Regions from separate parts of the Homo sapiens genome. Here regions 1, 3, 4, 5 and 6 are each linked to region 2. Evidence: fine-mapped expression QTL. A gene starts in region 2. Each other region holds a variant in brackets. All regions are shown on one strand. Distances are from middle to middle. Region 1 has its middle 9.2 kb from the start of CLDN34. Region 2 holds the start of WWC3 (WWC family member 3). Region 3 overlaps WWC3 (WWC family member 3). Region 4 overlaps SHROOM2 (shroom family member 2). Region 5 overlaps WWC3 (WWC family member 3). Region 6 has its middle 19 kb from the start of CLDN34.

Region 1 (5,107 bases), 58 kb before region 2:
GTGTCGAAAGGATCCAGAGATTAAGATGTACACATCGAGATCCCCAGCCTGGTGGTGGCGACTCCATCGTAAGCCTGGAGTGTTTCTCCACTGACTTGACACAAGTACATCCAGCTGCCCTATCTCAATAGTGAGTTGATTTAGAGCAAACACGTCCTGTGAAGGAATTTTTAGACATTTTTGCTCTATTACAGCTCATTATGTAGGCATTTAAAGAGAGCTCAAGAATATGTAGGAAAAAATGTTTCTAAAAATTCTTTGTTTTCTCTGGCATTTCCTAAGTTCTAAACTTTAAACTTTTTCTTCAGAGAGGAATTTATTTTTATACCAATGACATTTGATTACTCAACTGGATATACTTAAACAGCTAAACATTCTACCAGAAGACTGACGTCCTTGTTCATATCCGATCATATATAAATACTGGCCTATGAACAAAACTGGGGAGATGTGTTACCCTTTTTTTGTTATTTATTTTTTTTAATTTAATCATTATTATTGTTGTTATTATTATTATTATTATTTTTGAGATGGAGTCTTGCTCTGTCACCCGGACTGGAGTGCAATGGTGCGATCTTGGCTCACTGCAACCTCCGCCTCCCAGGTTCAAGTGATTCTCCTGCCTCAGCCTCCTGAGTAGCTGGGATTACAGGCACGTGCCACCACGCCCAGCTAATTTTTGTATTTTTAGTAGAAACGGGGTTTCACCATGTTAGCCAGGATGGTCTCAATCTCCTGACCTTGTGATCTGCCCACCTCAGCCTCCCAAAGTGCTGGGATTATAGGTGTGAGCCGCCGCGCCCGGCCCTATTTATTTATTTTTTGTGGCCCATTCTAATCAAAGGAAGAAGAAAAAAAAGAATATAGCATGCAGGGAGAGTTTCAAATACGAAAAACCCTGAGTGTGAATATTTTGTTTACATTATTCTGCTCGTGCAGAATTTTCAGTCTTAAACTATCGCCTGTAGAACGGATATTTGGAATTAGAGTACTTTTTAAACTATTACTGGCATGAGCCTTTCTTCTTAAATTGATTCAAAGGACTCAAACTATTAGCAAATATTACATGTTGTCTTAATCCGTTCAGGCTTCTATAACAAAGTACCATAGACTGAGTGAATCATAAACAACACAGAAATTGATTTCTCACAGTTCTGGAGGCTGGAAATCCAAGATCAGGGTGCCCCTGTGGTCAGGTTCTGGTGAGAACCGGGTTGTTGGCCTGGTTGTATCCTCACATGGTGGAAAGAGAGCAAAGTAGCTCTCAGGCCTCTTCTTATAAGGGCGCTAATCCCATTCATGGGGAGTTCTGCCCCCATGACCTGATTACCTCCCAAAGATCCCACCTCCTAATACCAGCACACTGGGGTTAGGATTTCAACATCTAGTTAGGGGATAAGGGGGGCAAACATTCAGTCCATAACAGTTGTCAACTTTTTAGCATATATAAGAAAAGCATGTTCAATTTTTTTTTCTTATTTTTGAGAAGGAGTTTTGCTCTTGTTGCCCAGGCTAGGGTACAATGGCGCGATCTTGGCTCACTCCAACCTCCGCCTCCTCGGTTCAAGTGATTCTCCTGCCTCAGCCTCCCGAGTAGCTGTGCCACCAGGCCCGGCTAATTTTGTATTTTTAGTAGAGATGGGGCTTCACCATGTTGGCCAGGCTGGTCTCGAACTCCTGACCTCAGGTGATCCACCCACCTCGGCCTCCCAAAGTGCTGGGATTACAGGCGTGAGCCACCGCACCTGGCTTCTTCAATGTTTTTCTAAGTTTGATTGAAAAAGAAACCAAAATGGTATTTATGAATTAGAAGGGAGAGATGTAGATCTTAATGTATATGACAGCTATAACCTAAAGGTTGCAAGGAAAAGGACACACCTAGTGGTAAAGTTGCTACATTCCTCTGGAAGTAATGAAATATTAATTCTGAATAGGCTATGGACCGGGCACAGTTGCTCACGCCTGTGATCCCAGCACTTTGGGACGCCAAGGCAGGAGGATCGCTTGAGCCCAGGAGTTCAAGACCATCCTGGCAGCATGACAAAACCCCATCTCTACTAAAAATACAAAAAAATCAGCCAGGCATGGTGACCTGCACCTGTAGTCCCAGCTACTGGGGAGGCTGAGGTGGGAGGATCACTTGAGCACAGGAGACAGAGGTTGCAGTGAGCTGAGATTGTGCCACTGCACTCCAGCCTGGGCGGCAGAACCACGCCCTGTCATAAATAAATAAATAAATAAATAAATAGTTTTTTCAAAATAGGCAATGAAATGCCTGTGTATTGTCATCTCTAGAACAAGCACTTAAAAACTGTACAAAGAGATTCAGACAACTCAATAGATAACTTTCGACCTTGCTCAGATAGCCCAAAAGAGG[G/T]CAGTAGAAGGGAAGCCGCAACAACAACAACCAGAAGAAACAAAACAAATATTAAAATAGCAGACCTGCCTGGGCGCGGGGGCACACACCTGGAATCCCAGCACTTTGGGAGGCCGAGGTGACAGGATCGCTTCAGCCCAGGAGTTCAAGACCAGCCTGGAAGACATAGGGAGACCCCGTCTCTACAAAAAAAAAAAAAAATTACCTGGGTGTAGTGAAATGTGCCAGTGTTCCCAGCTACTAGGGAGACTGAGGCAGGAGGATCACTGGAGCCCAGGAATTGGAGGCTGCAATGAGCCATGATCACACTACTACACTCCAACCTGAGCGACAGAGTAGACCCTGTCTCAAAAAAGAAAAATAAATTCTCCAAATACTGTAAAAAAAAAAAAAAAAAGGAAGTGGCTATTTCTGCTCTCCACATGAAAATCTGTTATATGACAACACTTGGAGTTCATCAAACACTTGGAGCCCAGTGGGAGCAAGACTGTACAGCTACCTCCCTCCAAGTTCAGATTGGCCCTCCTGCCTTCTGCCACAGAAGGGGACTGGTGGTCTGGTGATTATGGGCGGCGGCGGTGAAGGGGGTAATTGGGGGCATCGGATATAGATTCTCAGGCACTATTTCTACTGACAGTCCCCCGTACTTCCCCCGCCGACACCCCACTCCCTGCAGAAGCACCTGGTACCACAAAGAGTCTTGCTCCTGGCAGGTCTGCATCTCAGCCTTCTGGTCTACCCAGCCAGTTGGCATTTGTCTATCACCTTTCCTGCTACCAGGATCTTTTTGGTAAATCATCTGCTGTGTTCTCTGAGGGTTAATGCCTCTTTTAAGCTGTTTCTGTCATTTTAGTGGGCTTTGAGGAGAGGGTGTAGTTAAATGCATGTGTGCATTGCTTTTTTTTTTTTTTAAAAAAGATAACCAATAGTGCAGAAAAGCACATAAACTTGTCACATTGTAGGACACTGAAGAACAAAAGAGATCACATAGAATTCCCCAGCCAGTCAGGAGTCTGAGACCAGCCTGGCCAACATGGTGAAACCCCGTCTCTACTAAACATACAAAAAATTAGCTGGACGTGGAGGCGGGCGCCTGTAATCCCAGCTACTCGGGAGGCTGAGGCAGGAGAATCGCTTGAACCCGGGAGGTGGAGGTTGCAGTGAGCCGAGATTGCACCACTGCACTCCAGCCTGGGCAACAAGAGCAAAACTCTCTCAAAAATAAAAAATAAAAGAATTCTCCAGCCAGACATAGGCAGTGTGTTAGTGTCCTATTGGTGCTGTAACAATTTACCACAAACTTAGTGGTTTAAAATGCCACATTTACGCATTACAGTTGTGAAGGTCAGAAGTCTGTAATCTGTCACGCCAAGCTAAAGTCAAGGTGTGAGCAGAGCTGTGTTCCTTTCTGGAAGCTCCAGGGAGAATTGGTTTCTTGCCTGTCTAGTATCTGGAGGCCACCCCATTTCTGGTCTCACGACCCCTTCCTCCATCCGCAAAGCCAGCAGTCTAGCGTCTTCCAGTCTCTCCCTGACCCTCCTTCTATCATCTCATTTCCCTCCCTGACCCTCTTGCCTCCCTCACACAAGAACCCTTGTGATGACACTAGCCCACCTGGATAAGCCGGGATCATCTCCCCACATCTGGATCCTCGATTCCATCACAGCTGCAAAGCCTGTTTTGCCATGGAAGGCAACATAGCCACGTACCCCCTTCCTTCCTTCCTGCCCTCCCTCCTTCCCACCTTCCTTCCTTCCTTCCCCCATTCCTCCCCTCACTCTCTCCTTCCCTCCGTCTTTCTCTCCCTCTTTCCCTTCCTCCCTCCCTCCATTCTTTTCCTCCCTCCCTGTCTCCTTTTTCCTTTTGCTTTTTTTAAGGAAACAGGATTATATAATAATATTTTCGAAATCTGCTTTTTACTTAGCAGTATTGGGAACGTTTTCCTTAATTATTCTTCAACATAGTATTGAATTTTGGTGTGATATCCCATTATAAGGATATAAAATGGTTTACTGAACAGTTCTCTAAGTGTGGTTTTAGGATTTTGCCTTTTTGTCCCAGTTGTAACCTCAGTTACAGAGTTCATTGGGTGTGCTTTGCACTTAGATCTTTGCACACATCTCTGCTCATTTGCTCAGAATAAATTCCTTCTTATGGAAACCCTGTAAGCAAAGGAGTCCGGTGGGATTTTGACTTCCATGTAATGTTTAGTCCTACATACTGGGTAGCTGGCATCGTTTGCCTTTTGGCAGCCTCATTTCTTACACAGGTTCCATTTGAAGCTGTCCCCAGTCTTAGCAGGTCAGTTTCACACACTCCGCATCTTCCACTTGTCTTACCTACCGAAACTGTTCCAACAAGCCTGTAATTCAAGACTTAGCTAGAAAAAGGTCATTTCCCATGAACTAACAGTGTCTTTCCCAGCTGGCGCGGTGGCTCGCTCCTGTGATCCCAACATTTTGGGAGGGTGAGACAGGCAGATCGCCCGAGTCCAGGAGTTGAAGACCAGCTTGGACAACAAAGCGAGACTCCATCTCTACAAAAAATACAAAAATTAACCAGGCATGGTAGTGCGTGCCTGTGGTCCCAGCTACTTGAGAGGCTGAAGAGGGAGGATCTCTTGAGCCCAGGAGGTTGACTGAGGCTGCAGTGAGTTGCAGTTTTGCCACTGTACTCCAGCCTGGGGGAGAGTGAGACCTTGTCTCAAAAAAATAAAATTAAAATTAATGG
Region 2 (5,107 bases):
ACAAAATATGTGCTTTTTTGACCCTCCCACTCTTTCCCTTGGACATGTAATAATCACACATGTTTAAAAGGACTCATGCGGTGGAATTTCTCACATAGAACATTCAGGTAGGGGTAGATAGATACTTGGGGAGCAAGAAAGTTTCTGTGTTGTAGTAGGAGGAGGGAGAGGAAAGACCTTCCTTGGATAGTTTTTTGGACGTCGCTATACCTTCACAACTTCACATTCTTCTTCTTCTTCTTCTTCTTTTTTTTTTTTTTTTTTTTTTTTTGAGACAGGGTCTCTGTTCCATCGCCCAGCCTGGAGTGCAATCGTGCAAACACGGCTCACTGCAGCCTCGACCTCCCTGGCTCAAGTGATCCTCCCACCTCAGCCTCCCAAAGTGTTGGGATTAAAGGTGTGAGCCACCGAGCCCGGCCCCACATTCTTCTAATTTTTTTTTTGTTGTTGTTGAGATGGAGTCTCACTCTGTCGTCCAGGCTGGAGTGCAGTGGCGCGATCTCAGCTCACTGCAACCTCCCAGGTTCAAGCAGTTCTCCTGCCTCAGCCTCCCGAGTAGCTGGGATTACAGGCGTGCGCCACCATGCCCGGCTAATTTTTGTATTTTTAGTAGAGACGGGGATTTCACCATGCTGGCCAGGCTCGTCTCGAACTCCTGACCTCGTGATCCGCCCGCCTGGGCCTCCCAAAGTGCTAGGATTACAAGCGTGAGCCACCGCGCCCGGCCCATTCTTCTTTTTTAAAACAACCTTTCCCCTCATAAAAGTAATATTACCATTTTACAAAAAATTGGAAGGCAAATCATTTTTAAAAATCCCGCCAAAGGAATGCAAACTCTTGTGAGCATTTCAGGACATTTTCCTCCAGTCTCTTCCCCTGTGTATCTGGATTTCAATCAGGCTCTACCAGATATTTTTGTATCACTGTAACTGTTTAAAAATCTCCCTGATACTGTCCTGCATTTCCTGGCATAACGTGTTGCGGCTGTGGGTCTGGGGCACGAAGTAGGTGGGAGATTTAGAGCAAGACACAGCCCCAACTCTGGAGCTTCAGCTTCCCCAGCTGGGAGCCAGTGAAACAGAAGTTCCCGTCTAGGCTGAAAGTTTTAGGAGTTGACCCGGCTTCCTCCCCAGCAATGGTCTACTTGGGTCTCCGCTCAAACGATCAGACCCCACAAACCGGATGAAGCGCTCAGGGAAGGTCAAGGAACTCCCGCCTAGTGTGGGCCCCCAGGTTAGCCCTTCTAGGGCTGTCCTGGCGGGGACGCAAAGTGGCCACCTGCCCAGCTGCCCGCTTCCAGAGGCGTCCTCCCTGCGCCGCCCGAGAGGACCGGCCGCGGGCTCCCCCAGCTCCTCAGCTCCCTCGGCCCCGCCTTCAGGGGCTTTTCCCACCTTCGCGGGACCAGACGGGTTGTGTGGGAGACCGAGGGCGCAGCCTCCCGCCAAGTGCGCAGAGGGTCTCCAGACAGCCAGAGCCCGGGAGCGGGTGAAGGGAGGGCACTGCCCGCTCTCTCGGGAATTGTTTGCGCCCGAGGAGTCACCCCAGGCAGGCCGCGCCCGCAGTCCGGGTAGGGCGTCGTCCTCCCCGCCCGCCTTCCTCTACGCGGGGGCCCGGGGGCGGACTGACGCGGCGGCGCCCATCCTGGCCTCCATGCGGTTTCCCGAGGCCGGAGGAAGGTGGCGGAGCGGGAGGGAGAGAGCGAGGAGCGCGCGGAGAGGGAGGACGGCGGAGGGGGAGGAGCAAGCGGAGGGGTGGGGGTGGGGTCGAGGAGCCGAGCGCCGAGGAGGACCCCGAGGGAGACTGGGGGCGGAGCAGCCGGCGACGGAGAGGCGCGGAGGACGCGGGGCCGGGGGAGGCGGAGCAGCGGGAGTGGGTGGAAAAGCAGAGGCGGCGGGAGGAGCGGGAGCCTCCGTGGGAGATTCGGGAGGAGCAGCCGGCGTGGGTGGAGCCGCCGGCGTGGGAGGAGCCGCGGGGCCTGGGTGAGAACGGGGCGGGACGGCCGGAGGCGGGGCCTGCGAACGCCCTGCCCCTGCTCGCCCGGGCCGCGCCGAGGAACGAAGATGGCCGGGCGCGCCGCGGGAACGGAGGGGCGGCCGGCAGCGGCGGCGGCGGCGGCGGCGGCTCCCGGGCTGTGACTTCGCGCGCGGCGGCCACCCGGGCTACCTGAACGGAGTGGGCGGCGCGGGCAGCGGCTTGCTAGGGCGGGCGGGCGGACGCCGGTGCACGGGCGCCGGGCGGAGGATGCGCCAGGAGCGGCGGGCGGCTCCCCGCGGCCGCCCCCGCGCCCCGGGCGCCGGGCCTTAGTGCTGGCGGAGGAGGCGGCGCGCGCGGGGCGGCCGGGCGGCGGCGGGGCCCGCGCCGTCATGCCTTGGCTGAGCGGCGGCCGGCGGCGACGGCGGGGACAGCCGCGCGAGGCCCCGCGGGAGCCGCCGCCTTCTGCGCAGCCCCAGCGGGAACCGCGCCGCCGGCGCCCCCCGCCGCGGTCCCCACGCCCCCAGCTCCTTCCGCGCCGCCGCCGCGGGCCCGGGAGAGCGCCGAGCTGCCGCTGCCCGCCGGCTGGGAGGAGGCGCGAGACTACGACGGTCGCGTCTTTTACATTGACCACAACACGCGCCAGACGTCGTGGATCGACCCCCGCGACCGGTAAGCGGGCCGGCTGGGGGCGCCAGACCCGGCGCGGGCGCTACGACCCGGGCCGCCGGCCGGCGCCACCGCGGATGCGCTGGGGACACGCCCCGCCCAGCGCGGGGCCGCCGCCGAGAGCCCCCGGGCCCGGGCAGAGCTCGGAGCGCCTCCATCCCCGGAACCAGGGGACTCCCTGGAGTGCTCCGGTCCAGGCTACGATCGAGGCGCCCCCATCCCTTGGGCCCAGGGAGAGGATCGGAGACACCAGGAGGCCCTCGGGGCTGGGTGAAGATCTTTGGTTCCGGGGGTCCGGGAGAGGATCCACCCTCCCAATACCCCGACTCCCAGGGCTCTGACCAAGAATGGAGGTGCCCCTTCTCCAGGCCTCGAGCCCTCTGAGCGCCGAGGCCGGCCGCCTACAGGTCCCCCGCCGCTGGGCGGACCCTCTCATTCGGTTCCCTCACGTCACCCGCTGTCCGGCGCCTGGGAACTGGGCTCCTGGAATTTCCTCTCCTGGGGCTGACAGATGGCCCTCTTTTCCTTTCTCTGCGGCAGCCTCGCCCATCCCGGTCCCGGGCGTCTGCGGCCCACTGCCCCGGCCCTGGTTCTGCAGGTGTCCCCAGCCCCGCGGTGGCGAGATGAGCTGTCACCTTGGATCACAAACGTGCGCCCCAGCTTTGGGGTGCGGGTTCCCTGTCTGGCGGGTTCAGGCTGGTTTCCATCCAAAACCTGATGTCAGACGGGCCCTTGAGGGATTCCCAACCCTTTTGGAGTTGGAGAAGTCTGTTCCCAAACTCTAGTTGCTCTTTAGCGCCTTAAAACTCGTGAGTTAAAACTGTTTGAAATAGCCTTCTGTACTGCAGCCAGAATGCAATATGATTAGTCCCATATGCTTTTGGAATAAACGAAAAACAAGAATTGTATTTTAAGTTTCCTTTTTGTGAAAGATATGCATGGGGTACAAAGCTGTCTTATTCACGTATAAAAACCCAATCAAGTAAAAACTGATTCTTGTAAAAGCACTATCAGATTTCATTTAATTAATTCCATGTAACGAAGCTCTTCCTTAACTTTTTGCTCGATTGTCTACGGGTTTCGATTGTTCAACTGCTTTTACAGAGATGTATTTTGTGTGGAATTGGGATTTCTGTGGACATCAAGTGTTTCCACAGGTTATCTGATGTCTTGTCCTCTCTAGAGCAACTCTCCTTCCAGGGCCTGAGTGCCAAAAAGGAAACACCACAGGCTTCCCAGTGATTTGAAGACTTGCAAAGGCCCAGTGTGGTGACATTGTGCCTGCTTCCTCCTACCTGCACAGGGAAGGCGGCCTGCATGGCACTGGCGTCTGAAAATAAACTTTTGAGGAGAGAAGCTGCTGAATTGTTTGAAGATTTCTCTGAGTTCAAGCAGGGGAAAACAAAAGAAAGCAAAACAAAAAGATCGTGATTCCCTAACATTCTCGCTGAACATTGCAAACCTCTGGGCTCAGAAACCTATATCAATCCTAGTACAATTTTATGGGTTAAAAAGATGCCTAGTTATTTTGAAAATCAGGTGAGATCATGTTATAATTTTAACCAAAGGCTAGAGCCCCAGCTGTTTGATCAACCCTTGGATGGTTCTGGAATTGGTAGAACTGCTTGGAATGCAGTGCCCTTTTATACCATATGTATGTTAAAAACCCAAACAACTGGAAAATGAACCAATTAAAATAGTGTTTTGCTTAGAAAAGGCTAAGGCTCACTTTCCAAGGGTAATATAAAACAGTTGTGGTTATATTGGAGTGGAGATTCATGCTGAAAGATATCAATGTGAGGATTTTCTTTTTAATGGTGTAACCTGTGACAAACGTGAATGGACCATACAGAAATCAGCTTGGAGAATCTTGTTTTCCATGTATTTCAGACACATTTCCTATATTCCTTTTTTCCAGAAATCGATTTGTTACTTTTCAGACAATCACTTAAAGGTTTTTAAAAAGTCTCCGTTCTGATGCTAAAATTGTCAATTGAGTCAACAAAAGTGGATATTTTACCTTTTTTTTGTAAAGTAAAAACGTGTGTACTTTTATGAGACGTTGTTTTTATAGTGAGTGAAAATTCAGCAGGGGACAGCTTGAACTTCAGCTCCCATAATACCTTGCCCGAAATATGTATGGAATGTTCAGCAAGCCACAAACATTTAAGTGGAGTCGGCTGAAGGCTGTAATAGTCATTCTTCTTCCTCTTTCAAAACAGAACCTGGCCGAGTTTTATAGGTGGCGGGTTACCCTTTAAAGTTGTAATTAACTTTTATTATATGGGAAGAACTGCATGTCAGAGGGCAGTGTTTTCTCCATGCGCATCTGACAGTTAAAACCCTTTTTGAGTTGCTTTTGAGTCACACAGGAAAATGGTATTCAAGAAATACGAGGACTTTCACCAAACAGCTTCCACATAGAGACCTGACAGGAGAAAGGCAAATACATAATAGCTTTTTTTTT
Region 3 (4,744 bases), 92 kb after region 2:
CTTCTGACATAAAGAGTTGAGTAGAATGGACGCTGGTTTAGTTCAATCAGCTGAAGTGATTTCATTGTCCATCTGACTTACATCTCAGCTGTTTTCTTTAACCTTTGCTTTTTATTTAAATGGGTATTTACAACAAGAAAACTAAGAGAAAATGTAAGGAGTATCGAACCTGTAGCCGTAATTGCAATCTGAAGGTATGAGGCTCTAAGCTGACCCCGCGTCCTGGAATGTGCCATTGGGATCCCTCACGACTCATCACCATGGGATAGGACCGTGGGCTGTCCAGAGTTCTGCTTGCTATTCCAGAAAGCAGCAGGATTTTAGGACCATGAGAAATGATATTGTAGACTGCAGATTTTTGGTATAAATTCAAATAATTAGGGATTATTCTTGATATGCCTCAGAACTTTTTATTATTGAAAGTGCATTGTTTTCCTATAAAAATGCAAATCGTATTTAAGATTTTCATGTGAATTGTGAGAGTCTAAATAGTTTCTGCGGCATAAATGCATGGTTTAATGGTGCCTGGGTTGTAACAGAAAAGTGTTTGAGCAAAAATCATAAGGGAAAAATGATTCATATTTTATGTCTGTCTACATTAGACCTGCTCAGGGAATAGAATTTGGGAAACACATAATAAATAAGAAACCTGCATGCTTGATTGAACATTTGCTTTCTTCACTATCAGGACACGGGGGCATATATTTTAAGGCTTTTAAAGGCATTTGGGAGAGATTTTATATAGGCCATAAAATGCATTACCCCTCAAAAATAAAAATCACTGAAGAATATAGTTGGCTCACAGAAAAAAAAAAAAATCCTCTCTAATTTTAAGCTGCTATTAGTTCTCTTTACAAAAAACTCGGGAAAGTTATTTTGTTTTGCAAACTTTAACCATGACCTTGCTTTACTTCCATGTATTTAATTTCACTGAAATGATATTTCAAAGAAAAGCCTTTCTGGAAATTGTTTTTCCTTTAATACCCAAAATTGGAACAACAGCACTCACAGGAGCGAGGCTCCAACCAGTGGATCAGCTGTTTGGCGTGGATGTAGAAGAAGGTGCATTGAAACTCAGTACATCTGTGTTTAGCCTTAGGCAGGAAGTCTGTTTCTTCAAGTAAACCTAACGTACTAAAGATACTCCCTGCAGATGGCTCGTTTCCGGCCCACGGCAAGGTAGACAAGTCATACGGTTTTAAAGGCAAAGCCGTCTTGTCTGTCTCATGGGGACATAAGAACAATCGATTGTTGAAGGAATCCTAGTGCTTTTGGCTTCCAGTACAGACAGACAGACAGATGTGCCTCTCTCGACCTTGCTGAAGCAGGCCCCAAATGTTCACACCTAGAACATGGGGACAAAGAAAGAAATTGAACTTTTCAATATGTTCCAGTTTCTTCTAGATTCATATATAGCTCTGAAATGAAGATGAGATTGTTTGCATTGTTGCATTGTTTTGAAATTTTATTATTAAACCCCACAATTGGAAGGCACAGAAATGTTTGCCTAGCATTCAGCACAGCCCAAACATTTCCAGATGGGTTGCAGATTTTGTTTCTGCTGGAGAGGTCGTCCCTTGCCGTTTGTCCTTGCATATTTTTCCTGCCAGCTGTGGGAAGTGACAGGACATGGTTTAATTTGGGCTGCTGTTCTGTTTCTTTATGCCTGCAGCAGACAGGTCTTTTGAAACTCACCCTTTGCCTCTCCTCCCTCCTATAATTCATTTTTTTCCTCATTCTTTTTTTCCTGACAGTGCATATTACTTGAGATTTTCCTGGAAAGGTTGTGATTATCTGGAATTGGATCTTCCGCCACCTTCAACAGCTTGAATCCTTGTAGGCTAGCAGCTAACCTAGAGCTGGCAGACTCAAATGGAATCTTGATCTCTTCATATTTAAGGCTCAGAAAACTCAAAAGGAGTGTTCTGTAAAATACTTCTGTTTATATTATATGTATGGTAATTAGTATGAGTATAAAATGGTCGGGCAAAATTTAGCTGGGCTCAGACTTTCCTGTGGATCAGATAAATGGAAATGAAAAAAAGTATGAGGACACAGATTTGCTGATTGTTCTTCATCTTTTATATTTATTTCTTAACTTGTCTTGGTCTACTGTAGAATGTTCCAGAAATGTCATTGGGTATAATGTCTGATTTAGCACTGACTTATTTGTGGGTTTGCTTGGAGTGTATTTTCCTTGGGCTTTGGATATATGACTGCCATAAATTTTAATTACACTAATTAGACGTAGGTGGATGCTTAAGCCCAGTTGGAGTCCTAGCCCTGTTCAGCTGCCTCTGTCATTAGTTTTTCTGGTGACATGGTTTGGCACCATCTTCCAACACGTTTTCCAGACATTAGTTTTAAGTTAGAAAATAACTTGTCTAATAAAGCTACTGACATTCAACTAGTGTCTTTACCTTGTTGAAGTGGACTTGAGTAAAATGCATACATTTAAACTGTAACTTGTGTACCCGTTTCTTTCCTTAACTGTGGGCTTTCAGATTCGTTTGGTGGCTAGAGAGGGAGTCATGCCCGATCCTCATGAGTCCATGTGCTCGTGTCTAGTTTAGGTGGAGCCTGACTTGGCACAAGGCTGGGTGGCAGGTTTTAACATGTGTGGCAATGCTAGTCAATTGGGGATATCCACATGGCTCATAGTGTAGAGAAGGCTTCTGAGGTCTAGACCCAGCAGGTGGGAAGCCAGCCTTGGTTAGTGCCGTGGACCGCGGGCACAGGAGGAGGCAGTCTCAGGAGCACCTCTGCCCTGCATCTCCCTCGGAGGATATAGGGCCACGTGTGCCTGCCACTTCCCTGTTCTCACAGCTCTTTGTGATCTCAGAGAAGCCTCTGGATTTTGTTTTTGGG[C/T]GAGTATGCCAACTATGTCCTCCACAGCATGGGGTTCAGGTTGAGTTTGCCATTCCTAGTTTCTCCCTAGAAACATATCCCTGATCTTTAACCCTACTTAAAGGGCTTAAAACATTCTACTCTTACTTTTAAAGGATGCTTTAAAAATACAGGCCACATCTGTTTCACTTAATCTGCATTCAACAGCACCTCATGACACAAAAAGTAATGCAGTCTGTTTGCCAAGCAAGCACTTGGAAATTTCGAGGCATGGAAACTGATAGGAGCCTCTGTTTTTCCACCTTGAGGATTGTTGCGCTTTGCATCCACCCAGATCATCTCTCACCAGCATCCATGCTCACAGGGCTGCCTCTCTTCCTCTCACATATTTGCAGGCGTGTTTGTTCACTGTTCAATGCACTCAGCTTTTGTCGAGTGCCCACTTGCTCTCCGCAAGGTGTTTTGAATTCATGTATGGCCAGGGGCTCTGGTGCAGGAAGGAGCACACAGAACCAGAAGACGCGGAGCATGGGGCTTCGAAGGTCTTTCCTTCAGGACGCCAGATGATGAGTGCATTTCTCCTTTGTTATTTTGCTAAAGCGGCTGACAGTGGTTAGACACAGCTGAGGAGGCGGGAGGCCGGCAGCACTTCTGGGGGTCCAGCATGCTGTTTAGCTACTGATGAGGGTGGGCAGAAGAAACAAGCAGACTCCCTCCTGCTCTGGGACAGTTTCATGTAGGAAACCAGGAGTCTGAGCCGCCGAGTATGGGCATGTTGAGGGCTGCTGGCCTTTTTGTCAGTTCTTCGGAACAGGCACGATGGGGTTATTTTCATCTCGAATCTCAGGCTAAGGGAGCTTCAGGAAAAGACTTCTGCACCATTTTTTAGGACATTGTTTCCATATCCTTTTAAGTGTAAGGGTCACTTGGTGTAATCATTTCACTACTTATTTGGCAAAAGGAGTTTATAGAATCAGTGTGAGACGTGGAGAAGGTGTGAAGACGGCGTTTTCAGTCCGCCGATGTCCTTTTTTCCTCCCCGTCTCTCTTGCAGAGTCGCCAACATCCAGCAGCAGCTGGCCCGGCTTGACAATGAGTCCTGGCCAAGCACGGCCGAGGCTGACAGGGACCGGCTGCAGCTCATCAAGGAGAAGGAGGCCCTGCTGCAGGAGCTTCAGCTCATCATTGCACAGCGCCGCTCTGCGGGAGATGTGGCCCGGCTGGAGGAGGAGCGGGAGCGCCTAGAGGAGGAGCTGCGGCGTGCACGGGCCACCTCCGCACAGGGCGCCACGGAGAGGTGGGTCAGCGGGGACACGACCTCCAGCGGAAAGCCTGCTGGAAAAACTCCACGGGGTGGCTTGTGTGTGGCTGGAGGGTGTTCCTGATGATCACTCAGAGCCTCTCCTGCCTGGATGTTCCCTGGCCTAGGAGGGGCATGCGGTGGGGGGCACTGCCTTCTGCTCCCTGGGTCTCTGGAGCCTCTGCTCCGAAGCAGGAGGTGATTGACAAGGGGGAAGGAGTGAGGGAAGATGGGTGACCTCCATCTCCGCCCACGCCCCACCCTTCCTGAAGTTGGTGCTTGGTGCTTCCACCTGCCTTTGTGGGACAGTGCCCTGAGCAGGCTGTGGTCCCGCTCCGGCCCGGGCAGCTCTGTTGCATGGGGGAAGAATTCCCTGTTCCTGACGTGGTGAGCATGGTGGGTATCCACCTACTGCTTTCCTCTCCAACTTTGATTTCTAGCCAGGAGAGCCTGCTCTTCTCTGGCATTGGGAAGCTGGCCACCTGTCGTGCGTCTGTCCTGAGGCTCCTTCACCACGCAGGACATGCAAAGCCAGCATAGTGGCTTTGGTATTCGGTGGCACTGAGTCGTTCAGCCTTTCCTCGTGTGCCGTGTGTC
Region 4 (5,107 bases), 170 kb before region 2:
ATCACACCACTGCACTCCAGCCTGGTCCACAGAGCAAGACCCTGTCTCAAAAAAATAAAAAAATTAAGGCCGGATGCAGTGGCTCATGCCTGTAATCCCAGCACTTTGGGAGGCCAAGGTGGGCAGATCACCTGAGGTCAGGAGTTCGAGACCAGCCTGGACAACATGATAAAACCCTGTCTCTACTAAAATTATAAAAAAATTAGCTGGGTGTGGTGGCGGGTACCTGTAATCCCAGCTATTCGGGAGGCTGAGGAAGGAGAATGGCTTGAACCCGGGAGGCAAAGGTTGCAGCAAGCTGAGATCGTGCCATTGCACTCCAGCCTGGGCAACAAGAGCGAAACTCCATCTTAAAATAAATAAATAAATTAATTAATTAATTTAAAAAATGGTAGATTTCAAAATAGTGTTTGAAAGTTCTTGGCGAATTGGTGTGCTCCTGCGTTCCTCTCAACTCCCACTCTTGCTCAGTTGCCTACCATCACCTCCAATCTCCTGATGCTGGATTTGCAAGTTAAAGTATTTCTCTAGCGTGGGAGTTGGCAAGTGTCTTCTGTTAGGAGCCCGTAAATGTTTTCTGTTTGGGCCACTTGTTCTCTGTGGGACTCCTCAGGGTTGTTGCAGTAGCAGGAAGCAGCCACAGCCAGTGTATACATGAAGGTCGTGGCTGTGTTCCACTAAACCTTTATTCACCAAGCAGGTGGCAGGCCAGGTTTGGCCCAAAGGCTGTAGTTGGCCGACCCTTACTTTATTGCAGAAGTGTATACTGCCAGGACTTTTTTCTTGTTTTTGTTTTGCTTTGTTAGGGAGTCTGGCTCATTTGGCCCATGTTTATGGGGCACTGACTCTGTTGTTTAGCAAGCGCTGTGTTGCTAAAGAATGTTTTCGAGAGATTTAGACCCACCCAGTAAACCTGAACAAGAAGCCAGCCTGAGCAGTTAGCCGGGGTCACAGTTCTCCATAACTTCTCCCCCTGCTTCCTGCTGGAACAGCTCACTTTTGAAATGGCAGGGGAGTCATTCCAAGCTAGCATCTCCCATCCCACCTTGTCACCCACCCCCACCCACCTTTTTGTTTTTTCTGGAAAACAAATAAAGGCTTTTATTGTATCTACTTGGGCAGGATGAGGGGAGTGGTAGTTCCAGAGACAAAGGACTCAGAGCCAGGACCTGGCCCTCACCTCTGCGCACACCAGCCCACACTGGCTCCCGTCACCCTCCTTTCTGTCCGTCTCTGCTCCTCTCTGGTCTCACCCCGTCTGCTGCAGACAGTCCCTCTTCATGAGTTGAGAAACATAATTCCTGGCAGCTGCAGTGTCGCAACCCCTTCCTCTACATTTTGTGGAATGAACACAGCTATGTAACTCGCTACCCAGATCAAGAGATGGAACATTCCTATTTATGTTTTAGGAATGTTCTAGCTCCCCAGGGGTGCCCTTGAGCCTCCCCAACCCCCCAAATATAGGACTGTCTTGAATGTCCACACTATAGATGAGGTTAGCCTCTATTTGGCCTTTATATAAATAGCATCATCTAGTATGGACTCTTTTGTGTCTAGCTTTTTCAGTCAACATTACTTTTGTGAGATTCATTCATATTGTTTCTGGTGGCAGTTGTAGTTTATTCATTTTTGTTGCTGTGAACCTCAGTTTGTTTGGTTTTGGTTTTGGTTTTTGAGACAGGATCTCACTCTGTTGCCCAGGCTGGAGTACAGTGGTGCCATCAGGGCTCACCGTAGCCTCAAACTCCTGGGCTCAAGCCATCCTCCTGCCTCAGCCTCCTGAGTAGCTGGGACCACAGGTGCATGCCACCACGCACAGCTAATTCTTTTATTTATTATTATTATTTTTGAGACGGAGTCTCGCTCTGTCACCCAGGCTGGAGTGCAGTGGTGCAATCTCAGCTCACTGCAACCTCCGCCTCCCGGGTTCAAGTGATTCTGCTGCCTCAGCCTCCTGAGTAGCTGGGACTACAGGCACGTGCCACCACACCCAGATAATTTTTTTGTATTTTTAGTAGAGACGGCGTTTCACCGTGTTAGCCAGGATGGTCTCAATCTCCTGACCTCGTGATCCGCCTGCCTCAGCCTCTCAAACTGCTGGGATTACAGGCATGAGCCATCACACCCGGCCAATTATTTTATCTTTTATAGACATGGGGTCTTGATATGTTGCCCAGGCCGCTCTCGAACTCCTGACCTCAGGCATGAGCCACTGCCTCCAGTCTGTGTGTTTTTCTAAAGAATTCTTAGTGGCTAAGGAAGGTTAAGACCTTCCTATCGTCTCTTTCATCTTTCCCCAGAGATGAGCCATTTTGAACATGGATTTGGCATCTGTGCCGCCTCTGAGCCCATGCTTGGCTGATCTGTGGTTGGCGTCTGCCTTCCAGAGAATTCCTTGTTTTCCCACAGTCCCTTTGCAGCTGTTTCA[T/C]GGAGCACGGGGACGCATGCTGGCTGCTGCCACCAGCTCTGATGGCTATGAAGGTTTGAGACGAGTCTCATAGGTGAAATCTGGGCTCTAAGACAGCCCACCTTTTGAAAGGACAATTCAGCCACCAGAATATCATCTTCGATCTGCTGGTTTTCTCATTTTGGTTTCCAAAAGCCTTTAGCCATTGTTATTATTCCGTGCTTGTCTTGGTGTTAGCTCAGTATCCATGAAACCCGACAAACCTCTTTCTAGAATGAGGCCGGCAAACCAGTCTCATAATGTTCAACCCCAGTGAAGAGGAACTAAACCTCAAAATTGTTGTACCACAAACTCTATTGGCCTTTTATTGGTGGGGATTTTGTTTTTATTACAAGAGGGGTGACTGCTACAGTGGCCTTTCCGGCACCAGGCCGTGCCTGACGGATGAGAATGCTGTGTCATAAACAGTCTTTTGCAATGACTAACCGTGCTGGGTTGGAATGCAGTGCACACCAAAGGAAGGTAGGACTTTTAGTGGTTGTCACAATAGCTGTGCGAATCCAAATATGGCTGGAAAATGTCAACATACTCTCCAGATTATCAGCTCCGACGAATGTAAGAGACATAGTGTTAGGGGGATGTCTGGATAAGTTGAACTCTAATCAGAGGGAAAAGGGGGTTGGAGGAATAATGAATGAGGGAAACACTTTTATTGGGAGAATAGCTTGCAAAACGGCCAGTTGCATAAAGTGTCCTGTCCTAAGAAGTCCTAGTGTAAGCCTCGGCCAGTCCTAAAATATGAATGAGACCTAGGACTTATTTTACGTATTGCTGTTATCCTTACTAGCACTTTTGGAGTCTGCATTCTGGTAATGCCTAAATGCTTGTGCTGAGTTACATGTGGAAACAGCTCTACACAACATTCCCTAGTCTCTTGGACACTTACAGTGTTGGCCAGTCCTTTTCTCGTGATTTTTTCCCTCTGATTTACTCGTGTTGTAACAAAGTTATCACTTTTTTATTGTTTCTCTTTGCTTTCATCCTTTGCATCTGTGGCTGCTCACTTGCTATGCCCAGGGAAGGGGAAGATGGAGAAATAGATTATGGATATGGCACTCCAGGGCCTGTTTACCAACAACCTGAAAAGCTTATATTCTCAGCAGGTCAATACTCCCCATGTCTGAGGGCGAATGTTGTGTGGATTAACAGGCAAAACATGTTGCATAGATTTGCAGATCCACGTTTACAGATTCCCCACTGTATACTGAGGCCATCGAGGAACCTGAATTTGTGTATCCCTTGTGGCTATTGATATGTTGCTGAAGTCAAGTCAGGTATGTATTGAAAAGCATGGCCGGGCGCGGTGGCTCACGCCTGTAATCCCAGCACTTTGGGAGGCCGAGGCGGGTGGATCATGAGGTCAGGAGATCGAGACCATCCTGGCTAACAAGGTGAAACCCCGTCTCTACTAAAAATACAAAAAATTAGCCGGGCGCGGTGGCGGGCGACTGTAGTCCCAGCTACTCGGGAGGCTGAGGCAGGAGAATGGCGTGAACCCGGGAAGCGGAGCTTGCAGTGAGCCGAGATTGCGCCACTGCAGTCCGCAGTCCGGCCTGGGCGACAGAGCGAGACTCCGTCTCAAAAAAAAAAAAAAAAAAAAAGAAAAGCATGTTCTAAGTATCTAAGTATTTAAGTTCTACATGTCTAGAGATAAAACTCTCTTTATACGGGGATGTGAGGAGAGGAACTAGGAGGAGACTTTATCATGTGCTGATTTATGCTCTGCCGGTAATGAGCCATGCAGCCCTAAGCATGTTACCTCATATCTCTGGGACGAATAAAGTGTCTGTCCTTTGGCCAATTTTTTAGCTTCCCGAATCAGTTTATCGACAAGATGGGGACATGCAGGTGTATCTGCCAGGGTTAGGGGAAGCTCTCAATAGTAACGTGTGCTGAGAACCAGCTGGTGCCCTGCGTGAGTGCAGCGCTCCGTGAAGAACATTGTGTTATGAACTCCTGGGATGCCTGGATTCCCTTCCATTCATCCACTTTGTTCACCTAAAGGGCCAGAGCAAACAACCGTCCACTCAGGTAAACATTCCCACCCCAGAGCGACCGTTTGCATCCTCCAGGAGTTAACAGTACAGCTGGACTCACCCGTGGGTCTCCTGGAAGGCACTGTGTCGGAAACCGAGCTTCTCTCCTGCTTCCCTTGCTGTGGCCTATCTGGGAATCTATAGTCTGGAGCATCCCAGGGCGGCCTCCTTTGGCAGATGGTGTAGGAGTGCTGCAAGCCCTCCTGGATGCACCCAAGGACCCAGGAAGATGGGAGCGTGGATCTCTGTGCCTCAGCACAGAGGCTGGGAGGAGAGACAGCAGGCGCCGGCTGGCAGGAGCAGTCCATGTGGGAGCTTCTGTGTACTCCCACCTCTGCTTCACCTCCTGTTGATCTCTCCTCCCTCTGCAGCACATTCTGCCCTCCTTCCCCAGACTCCTCCCCACAGTTCGCCCTGAAACAAACCTTTCCATGGGATTGATTTTAGAGGCTGCCCATGTGGGACCAGGGCTGCAGCTTCCCTATGGGGGTGCTGGTGGCCTTGTGGCACTTGCTAAGCTGGGCGGGCGTGGCTAGGAGTTTGAGCAGTAACCAAAGTTTCCTCTCTGCTGAGTGCTCCTGGGGTCCATCCCTCTGGGGTGATG
Region 5 (5,107 bases), 84 kb after region 2:
TGGCAAGTAGCTCATCTCCACTGTGGACAGCTTTTGGAGCTGTGGCACTGCCACTTAAATATATTTATACTGAGGAAGCTGGAGAGGAGCATTGGATGAGGCCGTTTAAACATGTATAATTGTGGCCAGGCACAGTGGCTCATGCTTGTAATCCTAGCACTTTGGGAGGCTGAGGTGGCCAGAGGTGGCCAGATTGCTTGAGCCCATGAGTTGAAGACCAGTCTGGGCAACATGGCTGGGCAACCACCTGGGCGTGGTGGCTCATGCCTGTAGTCCCAGCTACTTGGGAGGCTGAGGCAGGAGGATCGCTTGAGCCCAAGGGGTTGAGGCTGCAGTGAGCTGTGATTGTGCCACTGCACTCTAGTCTGAGCAATAGTGCGAGACCCTGTCTCAAAAAAAGAAACCATGAACAATTGTCATTCTGGTTGGAGAATGCTCAGTCCCTTGTAAGGCACTTTTTCATCTTGCCATTCAAGGCAATAAATTTGCGAAGACATTTTTCATCAACATAGATCAAAACTCGTGTCGATAAATTCACTGCTAATCATTCAAGTTGAATATTTTCAGATACTTGTTGATGGGAAGTTATTTCAAAAATGTAAAGACTTGGTGGCCATAATATGTGATCTAGTAAGGTCAGATCAACAGATGGAGCTGATTTATTGAAACTGGAGTTGTGTGAATATTTGCAGGAATGAGGAATTAACCAAAATGTACTACAGTTACTTCCTGTACATGTCTTTTTTTGTTTTGTGTAGGATTTTATTGTCATCAATGTAACTGGTACAAAAATATTTAAGTATATCTACTCGTCACAGAGCACCGCATTTAGGCTAACTCTATATTGGTACTCCCCGAGCTCTGGCTTTTTGAGACCTTGCTTGCTTTCCTTTTGCCCTTGGTTCTTTTTTTTTTTTTTTTTTTGAGACGGAGTCTTGCTCTGTCGCCCAGGCTGAAGTGCAGTGGCTCAGTCTCGGCTCACTGCAAGCTCCGCCTCCTGGGTTCATGCCATTCTCCTGCCTCAGCCTCCCGAGTAGCTGCGACTACAGGCGCCTGCCACTACGCCCGACTAATTTTTTGTATTTTTAGTAGAGGCGGGGTTTCACCGTGTTAGCCAGGATGGTCTCGATCTCCTGACCTCGTAATCCGCCCGCCTCAGACTCCCAAAGTGCTGGGATTACAGGCGTGAGCCACCGCGCCTGGCTTGCCCTTGGTTCTTTAACACACCTCGTGGCATCAGAAGGCGTCCACCAGCCCATCCGTCACACAGCTAGTCCAGCTTCCTCAGACCGTGGAGCTTCTGAGTAGAACATCATTATTTTACGTTTACTGAGGAATTAGAGAATGTACTGCACAAAATCGGGTGACTGGTTTTTGCCTTTGTATCAACTTTTACTAAGTAATTTCCTACTTCTTTTAAAACCTAATTTGTGGTTGTTGTTTGGAATTACAGAATAGATAGATATGCTGCTGCTGTAAAAAAAAACAAAAAACCCTACCAGTTTAGGCAAGCAAGAGTCTTCCCTTCCCCCTCCCCCCTCCCCAGCCAGGGGTGGCCGCAAAGGGTTATTCAGTGTTTCCTTCCAGACCTTGCACAGATTGAAAGTGAAAGAGATGAAGAATATTTCTCATTGCTGCCGAAAGTTTAAGTGAAGTTGCTATTTTGGAAATATGTTTTTAATATGCGTTTCCTTTCTTTTTTTCTCTCTTCTGTTCCGGAAAGTTTGTCTTTGATGATAAAACAAGACTTGTAGACCGAGTCAGACTTAATTGGCAATATGAAGAAGCCAGAAAGAGGTAAGAAGCACTTTTTTCCAACCTCGCCTTCTGCTTACTTACTTACTTTCTCCTGTGGAAGGAAGCGTGGCATAGTTCCTGTGTGTGATTGGTCACGTCTCATCGGAGAACAGCGTTTGATAGAATACCAAGTCAAGGATCTTCATTTACGTGTAGCTTAATACATACATATGACAACATTTCAAGTGCATTTAAAATGTGAAATTTGCAATATTACAAACAGTTATACAGACGTGATTCCATAAGAATAGAAACTTTTTTGGCTTTGTCATCCCCGGTGGTTCAGAACCTCTACCCCTCCTTCCCTTCCCTCCTTCCAATAGACGAGC[A/T]TCAGTTCCAGAGGGTGTCATAAGTGAAACCACTTGATCTTTTATATGTGTGGCTTCTAACTCCATAAGCTAATGGGCAAAGCCATGTATCTTGGTTATAAGACATTCAATAAGCATTAGGTCAACAGGTGAGCAGTACCTAATTGATTTCATTCCATTTATGTTGTCCTGTGTCGTAAACCATTGGCCTCCTGCAAATTGCAGCTTGACCCACTTTGTGCACTTGTGTTTCTCTTTCCTCACTTCCCTCCCTCCCTTCCAGTCTTCATCCTCTGACATGCACAAAGCTGAGAGGCTTCCGAACCCTCGCATGGCATAGTATTTTAGGGCGTCACGTGTCTCCTCAGCTGTGCAGGGCTCCCGTTTTCAATATTCTTCTCCTCTCTGACTTTTGTATTCTCTTTTTAGGGACTTTCTCTAGTTTGTGCCTTCTGGAAAGAGTCTTAAAGCCAAATTATTTCCAAATAAGTGCTTCAGAAGAGTATCAAGCATATCTTTTTTAAAAAGTTACTTGAGTCACAAATGAAATATTGTCATGGGGGGCGGGGAGAGCAGAATAGCAGAATGTCGGGTGGGGTGAGGGAGTTCTTTCTGGAAGCTAAACAGTTAGGCCTGCTCAGCACACTGTACCATTCATGGACGTCTGGAAAGCTACTTTGTTGGCTTTTTAAAAAATGTAAAAATAGCAACAAAAGCACATCATATGATTCAGTGCTCCAGGGCCAACTTAAACGGACATGGGCCTTCTGTTTTCTAGGAGGTTTTCTAACCAGTGCCTCTTGGCTTTTTAGGATGGACTCGTGGTGGGCTTTAAATTTCCCCACAGAACAGTGCCAAGTTCATTTGGCAATACCAGTTGTCTGTGTGGTGATTCTTCATTATCATGCATATTCCTTCTCTGTAGCCTGCAAGAGTTTGTGAGGAGCGATTGTCTCTTCTGAGTATTCGTCTGCTCTTGCCTGTTTCTGGTGAAACTGCGGAGTGTGGGTGCTGGAATTTGCTACACTTAGGAACATGATTGTTACGTGTTTGGTTGTGACATTTACCAAACATAGCAAGTGATTTCTTTGTTTTCTAGAGATGGTGCCAGTATATGGTGAGTAACCTTCTAAATGTTGGGATAATACATTTGGGTGAAAAGTCGAGTATTTAAGAAAATTGTTCAAGGGGCAGGCATGGTACTTCATCAGTTCTTTTGAATAAAATACCATATTATTTCAAGATGGCCAGAACCTTGTTAGGAAACGCACCACAGCTACAGAGGAAGGTCCACCTTCCACTGACAGTAGCGGCATGTCAGAAGTGCCTCTGTGGGCTGTGTTGGAGCATTTAAAAATCAGAGATTTCTTTTAAACTCCACCTGGGTGGGCCTGCACAGGTGCTGCCTGTCCTTTTCCCACTAGCATAGTGGGGCTCCACACAGGGAGCAAGGCCTTCACCCTCCAGGAGACCTCCAGCAGTGTCTGCAGACATGTTTAGGTGTCCCAACTCTAGGGCAGGGGCCAGGGAGGCTGCTTGACATCCTGTTGTGTACAGGATGGCCCCCGCAGCAAAGACTTACCCGGCTCAGCATGGCCGCGGTGCCAAGGTCCAGAAACCTCGCCCTGGGGCTTCTTCCTGTCTTGCTCCTGAATCTTCACGATGCATGGACAACAAGGGGCCTACATGAGCAGGTCGCCTGCTGACTCACAGGCATCAGCCTGCTCCCCACTCACCCTGCTCCAGCCAATCGGCCCCTCGATGTTCCTCAGATGTACAAGCACGCCTGCACTGAGCAGCCCCTCGGGCCTCCCACCGGGCCTCAGTCCCACCGAGCCAACTCCTGACCTAGCATCTGCAGCTGGCAGAATGATGGTCCGTCAAGGTGTCTGCATCCTGATCTCCACAGCCTGTGAAGATGTGGCTTTCCATGGCAAAAGGGACTTCGTGGATGTAATTAAATTAGGGATCCTGAGATGATGGGGAAATGAGCCTATATGATCCAGGTGGGCTCAGTGTCATCACAAGAGTCCTCATAAGAGAGAGACAGGACGGTCGGCAGTAGAGAAGGAGATGTGAGGTTGGAATCAGAGATCAGAATAGTGTGGGGCCAGGAGCCAAGGAGCACGGGCAGCCCCTAGAAGCTGGAAGGTGCAAAGAAACAGATTTTCCCCTGGAACCTCCAGAAAGAACGCAGCCCTGTAGACCCATTTTCGACTTCTGCCCTCTAGAACTGTAAGGGAATAATAGGTGTTGCTTTAAGCCATTAAGCTTGTGGTAATTTGGGGCAGAAAAGAGCAAACTCATACAGTGCCCTTGGCCTGTTCTGTCTTCTCTGTCTGGAATGGGGTGGCTTTTCTCCAAATTGTCACATGACCTCTCCTTTTGATCACCTTGTTAAGAGAGGTTTCCTTGACCATCCTGAATAAAACCTCACCACCCTGTCCTCACCCCGGTCCCCCTGATTGGCTGAGCAAATGTTATTACCTAACCAGTGTTTACTTTTCTTACTGCCTGTCTCTCCCTGTGAAAATGTAAATAACCCTCATGAGTGCAGGGATTGTAGGTCATTGCTGTAAGCCCAGCAGCTACATACTTGGTGAATATTTATTGAATGAGTAAATGAGGGTCCCGTGTGGTTGCATTTGCTATTTGGCCTTTGCCCCTGGGACGGGGCAAGCCAGGGCAGTCCCGGGGCCAGGTCAGCTCCAGGCCAACTGCTCTGCTCCTGGGTCCCTTCCTCAAACCTCCATCCAGGTGTGAGCCTTGGGGTCTCTCGCCTTGACTTGAGAAGGGAAAGGGCTTCAAGACATGGGTGCCTTTAGGGATCTGAGGTAGGCAAGGAACTGTCTCTCCCTTTCAAGGACTATGTTCAAGGTGTGATACGTCAACACACCGAGCTAGACTAACAGTTCTGGGCCTTCATGGACATTCAAAAGGGCTACTAGCCTTTGAACTCCATAATTAATCCTCTCCTTGGGGGTTGGAGAAAATGGCATTGG
Region 6 (5,107 bases), 29 kb before region 2:
TCCTGCTCTCCAGGCCCAAGTTATTCTGGGGAAACTGTCTCTCGGTCACAACAGGACTGGCTCGTTAGATTGACATCTTGACGGATTCGCCGCAGTTCGTGCCAGCTGGTCTGCAACCATTAGTTCAGTCCTTTGTCAACCAACCAGAATGCAGCTGCTTATTAAATCGGGTTACTTGGTAACTGGGCTGCTATTGTTCACCCTTAACTAACGCAGATGAATACCTACCATCAAAATAGGCCCAATAGAAAACCTGCTGCCAATACAGAGCCAGGTGGGAGAACCAGCAGATTGAGACAGGTATGCAGGCTTGGGAGAATTCTTGCTGGTTATAAAAGGCATGCATTTTAGCAATTTTATTTCCAAAAGGTAAACAGTTTGGGATACGGAGTTATTAGACATTAGAGTCATCTATCACGGTTTGTTTTTTTTTTTCCTTTTCTTTTTTTCTTTGAGACAGAGTCTCGCTCTGTCACCCAGGCTGGATTGCAGTGGTGCCATCTCGGCTCACTGCAATCTCTGCCTCCTGGGTTCAAGCAACTCTCCCTGCCTCAGCCTCCCGAATAGCTTGGATTACAGGCACACACCACCACACCCGGCTATTTTTTGTATTTTTAATAGAGATTGGGTTCAGCCATGTTGGCCAGGCTGGTCTTGAACTTCTGACCTCAGGTGATCCGCCTGCCTCGGCCTCCCAAAGTGCTGGGATTACAGGCATGAGCCACTGCGCCTGGCCTGATCAAGTTTTTAAAAAGAGTATTTCTTCACTTTTAATTATTTTAAATTCTCTTTAGTATTGTCTCTTCCAGGGTTTGGTATCTGTATCTGGTTCCATCATTCCTAAACCTACCTTCAGAGAAAACATCTAATTAATTACCCACACCTTCCATTAAAACCAGAGATTGGGATCATTTTGAATTAGAAGAGACAGACCCTTATGATCCCACAATTGTGTTCCTTGGTTTTTATCCAAATGAGCTGAGAATTCACGTCCACAGAAAAACCTGCGCACAGATGATTATAGCAGCTTTACTCATAATTGCCAAAACTTGGAAGTAACAAAGATGTCCTTTGGTAGATGAGTGGATAAACAATGTGATACATTAAGACAATTGGATATTTTTCAGCACAAAAAGAAATGAGCTATCAAGCCATGACAAGACATGGAGGAACCCTAAATGCATATTTCCCAGTGAAAGAAGCCCATCTGAAAGGCTACGGACGGTAAGAGTTCAACAGTGTGACCCTCTGGAAACGGCAAAACTATGGAGACAGTAAAACAATCGGTGGTTTCCAGGGGCTAGAGAAGAAGGAAAGATGAAGAGGGGATTGCAGAGGATTTTTAGGGCAGTGAAACTATCTGTATGCTACCATAATGATGAACACATATCATTGTACGTTTGTCCAAATCCATAGAATGTACAACACCAAGGATGAACCCTAATGTCAACTATGGATTCTGGTGACGATGACATGTTGATGAAAGTGCCCTGAGGGATTGTTCACAGACCTACACCAGGAAAAGAAGTTTCTGCTCATGAATGCCACTCTGGCTCTCAACCTGTGCATGAGTGAGATCCCCACAGACGGGAGCTCACAGTTCTCTTTCTGCCCCCATTAACCTGGAAGGAATCTGGCCTCAAGAGGTGGGCAAGATTGGATCAGGCACCAGAGGCCTTGGCGGTCATTCTTGTCAGGCAGCCTTGCCAAGCTGGAGGCAGAGGCTGGTGACAGGTGGGACAGCAATTCCAAGGAGAGGTGGTGATGGCCCAAATCAGGGGCATGGCAGAGCCGTGGGGAGAGAGGAAGAGAGATGGAGGGGCAGCAGTGCCGGGATGTGGGGGTTACTGGGAAACAGAGGACAAGCAAATGCGGTGACCGGAGGGGACACCTGCACTTCTCCGTTGGGCAACTTCCCGTGCTCACGGAGGCCTCTCATGTTGTTCGTAAGCTACTGAGGCAGTGTGTGACGAGATGCTGAAACCTTGGCTGGTAAATGCACTTCAGGCCTTCAACTTCCTGGCTACTACAGCCGAGGTGGGGTTTGGGTAGCTGTGAGTAAGCCAGATGCGACGGACCGTGTAGTGATAGAGTCCTCACTGAAAGGTCCAGAAGAAATCCCATAAGGTCATCAAACCCAGGCTCTGAATGGAGTTCCACTAGGACACAGTGGGCCCGTGGATGGTAACTGTCACATCCACAAGGCTATTCCTTGTGGCACAATCTTCGTCATAGGATCATTGAAACAGCTGAACTTGGTGGGAAGAAATCGGGAAACAGCTTTTGTTTTCCTACCACTACCTTGCAAACACGATGTGGATGAACCTTGAAAACATGATGTCGAGTGAAAAAAGTCAGACACAAAAGGCCACAAATTGTACAATTCCATTTATATGAAATGTCCAGAGTAGAGAAATTCATAGAAACAGAAAGTAGATGAATGGTGGGCAGGGGCTGGGAAGAGGGGAATGGGGAGTGACTGCTCATGGGCACAGGGGTCGTTTTAGGAGGGACAAAAATGTTCTGAAATTGATGGTGACAATGGTCGCACAACCTTGTGAATGTACTAAAAACCACTGCATTGTATGCTTTACACAGGCGAGTTGTACAGTATGTGGATTATACCTCAGTAAAACTGGTATATATATATATATATATAAAGAGAGAAAGAGCGAGAGAGTTCCACATTAATTTCCGATAAGCACCCTTTGTAAACTAAAAAAACAAAAGACACTTCATTCAATGCTGTCTATCTTAAACGAACACTTAAATATATCTTTAACGATGAAGGATTAGTACAGTTTTTTCTAACCTTGGAGTGGTGGGGGCCATTTCAGGATCGCCTGTGGGGCCTTGTTCAAATCCACCCTCCCCCCAGCAAAG[C/G]ACCCCCTTCACTGACCCTGGTCTTCCCACACTTGTGAATCACTACATTAGAAGAATTCCCTGAAAATAGGGAACCAGACTTGAAAACTTGTCATTACCAAAGTTACGTAAGATTGCTCTGGAAGTTCCTTTTTTTTTTTTTTTTTTTTTTTTTTTTGAGACGGAGTCTCAGTCTGTTGCCCAGGCTAGAATGCAATGGCGTGATCTTGGCTCACTGCAGCCTCTGCCTCCCAGGTTCAAGCGATTCTCCTGCCTCAGCCTCCTGAATAGCTGGGATTACAGGCGTACACCACCACGCCCAGCTAGATTGTTCTGGAAGTTCTAGCCAGGGTGCTGTAAGTCAGGAGACAGAGAAAAGAGGTATAATTATCCTAGAAGGGTGTGTGAATCTTTGTTCAGCTAAGTTGACCCTATACCTAAAAAAAGTCCAAGAAAAGTTATTACACTACAACAGAAAGTTCAATTATATAGCTGGATACTAAATACACAAACATCAACAATCTTTTCGTGTTCCTACACAATGAGCCAGTTTGAAATTAGAATTGAAACAGAGTACTTTCACACAAAAAAGCAATAAACTCCCAAATATCTAGCAATAAGCTTAATATGAAATGTGCAAGACCCTGTATGTTGCAAACTGCTCAACCTTAGTAAGAGCCAAAAGAAGCCATGGAGACATGTCCCCAGTCCCAGATGGGGAAATTAAATTTTGCAAAGTTGTTCCACCTTCTGAGATTAATTTGTTGGCTTAATGTGATGCTAAGCAAAATGTTTATGAAAATCGGCAAATGCAAAAAATGAGCAAAACCTGCATGTATTAAGATTGTTACAGTTTATTAAGTGTAAAGTTTATATCCAAAGAAAACCAGTGTAAACACATATCAATCTCTAGTTAGTGGCATACTTGCTGAAAACTTAGGGGGATGTGTACTGATGTCTGCAATTTACTATGAAATGTATGAAAGAATAAGATGGATTGATGGATGGATAGAGGGATGAACAAATGAATAGGTACATGAAAAAGACTATAGTAATCTGCCTCTTATCAGAGCAGAAAAATGAATAAAAAGAAAAAGGAAAATACAGTAGAATGTTAATGAGAGAATCTGGGTGGTATTTGAGTTGTTCGCTAAAATTTTTTCAACCTTGTTTAATATGGGAAAGTTTTTGGCTGGACACAGTGGCTCACGCCTGTAATCCCAACACTTTGGGAGGCTGAGGCGGGAGGATCGATGGAGCCCAGGAGTTCAAGACCAGCCTGGGCAACATAAGGAGACCTTGTTTCTACTAAAAATTTTTACAAAAATTAGTTGGATGTGGTGTTGCATGCCTGTGGTCCCAAATACTCAAGAAGCTGAGGGAGGAGGGTCTATTGAGCCCCGGAGTTAACGGCTGCAAGGAGCTATGATCACGCCACTTCACTCCAGCCTGAGTGAAAAAGTGAGACCCTGTCTCAAAAAAAAAAAAGGTTCATAATAAAATGGGAAAAATACAGAGCAAAGAACAACAAAAACCAAAATGCATATAAAAGAAGATTCCAGCTTGAAAAATATGAGCTGGATAAAGATGGGGTGGAAATGGGCTAAAATGTTAACTATGATGAAATTATAGGTGATTTTTATTTACTTGTTCATACTCCATGCATTGATTGAGCTTTTTCTTTCTTTTTAAAAACAATATCCAAGTACTACTTTTATTTTAATTTTTTTAAACAGGGTCTCACTCTGTCACCCAGGCTGGAGTGCAGTGGTGTGATCTCGGCTCACTATAGCCTCAGCCTCCCGAGTAGCTGAGACTACAGTCATGTGCCACCATGCCCGGCTAATAGTTTATTTTTTTTTTTGCAGAGATGGGGGTCTCACTTTGTTGTCCATGCTGGTCTCGAACTCCTGCTTAAGAGACCTTCCTGCCTTGGCCTCCCAAAGTGTTGGAATTACAGGTGTGAGCCATTGTCCCTGGATCAGGAGTTGCTTCTTATGGATGAGCAAAGAAAGTAGTTTCTTAAGACACAATCTCCTCCTGGTGAAGATGTTGTGAACATTATTGAAATGACAACAAAAGATTAGAATATTCCATAAACTTAGTTGATAAATTAGTGGGATTCTTCCATTTCTCCACCAGGTGACAGCATAAGCACGTCAAAATAGCAAAAATTGTCTCAGAACACAGTATTTGGTCTGACATTGAACATTACTGCTGTTAATTGACTAGGTGTTTATTTTGA

What was found. PIP is the estimated chance that this variant, and not a neighbour inherited with it, causes the effect.
Region 1: its variant is fine-mapped to the expression of WWC3 in whole blood (TOPMed, PIP above 0.99). The same link has a PIP of 0.9 or more in monocytes.
Region 3: its variant is fine-mapped to the expression of WWC3 in cerebellum (GTEx, PIP above 0.99). The same link has a PIP of 0.9 or more in cerebellar hemisphere, cerebral cortex, esophagus muscle, gastroesophageal junction, prefrontal cortex and sigmoid colon.
Region 4: its variant is fine-mapped to the expression of WWC3 in whole blood (TOPMed, PIP above 0.99).
Region 5: its variant is fine-mapped to the expression of WWC3 in whole blood (TOPMed, PIP above 0.99).
Region 6: its variant is fine-mapped to the expression of WWC3 in whole blood (TOPMed, PIP above 0.99).

What each region holds. Positions count from the first base shown.
Region 1 is chrX:9,955,577-9,960,683 of GRCh38, forward strand. No RefSeq gene overlaps it. Among named protein-coding and RNA genes, the nearest start is that of CLDN34, 9.2 kb to the right of the region's middle. The variant G/T (reference allele first, on the strand shown) is at 2,378.
Region 2 is chrX:10,013,216-10,018,322 of GRCh38, forward strand. It overlaps WWC3 (WWC family member 3), which reads left to right and starts at 2,039. Exons shown (of 24, transcript NM_015691.5): 1 at 2,039-2,458; 2 at 2,461-2,643. The coding sequence starts at 2,364. RefSeq lists enhancers at 154-1,037, 1,038-1,921 and silencers at 1,742-1,911, 1,952-2,011.
Region 3 is chrX:10,105,877-10,110,620 of GRCh38, forward strand. It overlaps WWC3 (WWC family member 3), which reads left to right. Exons shown (of 24, transcript NM_015691.5): 10 at 3,902-4,144. Among named protein-coding and RNA genes, the nearest start is that of CLCN4, 49 kb to the right of the region's middle. RefSeq lists enhancers at 3,543-4,260, 4,261-4,744. The variant C/T (reference allele first, on the strand shown) is at 2,869.
Region 4 is chrX:9,844,464-9,849,570 of GRCh38, forward strand. The region is part of intron 1 of SHROOM2 (shroom family member 2); the gene reads left to right. Among named protein-coding and RNA genes, the nearest start is that of SHROOM2, 61 kb to the left of the region's middle. The variant T/C (reference allele first, on the strand shown) is at 2,429.
Region 5 is chrX:10,096,783-10,101,889 of GRCh38, forward strand. WWC3 (WWC family member 3) reads left to right here. Exons shown (of 24, transcript NM_015691.5): 9 at 1,724-1,797. Among named protein-coding and RNA genes, the nearest start is that of CLCN4, 58 kb to the right of the region's middle. RefSeq lists an enhancer at 1,602-1,651. The variant A/T (reference allele first, on the strand shown) is at 2,127.
Region 6 is chrX:9,983,957-9,989,063 of GRCh38, forward strand. No RefSeq gene overlaps it. Among named protein-coding and RNA genes, the nearest start is that of CLDN34, 19 kb to the left of the region's middle. The variant C/G (reference allele first, on the strand shown) is at 2,884.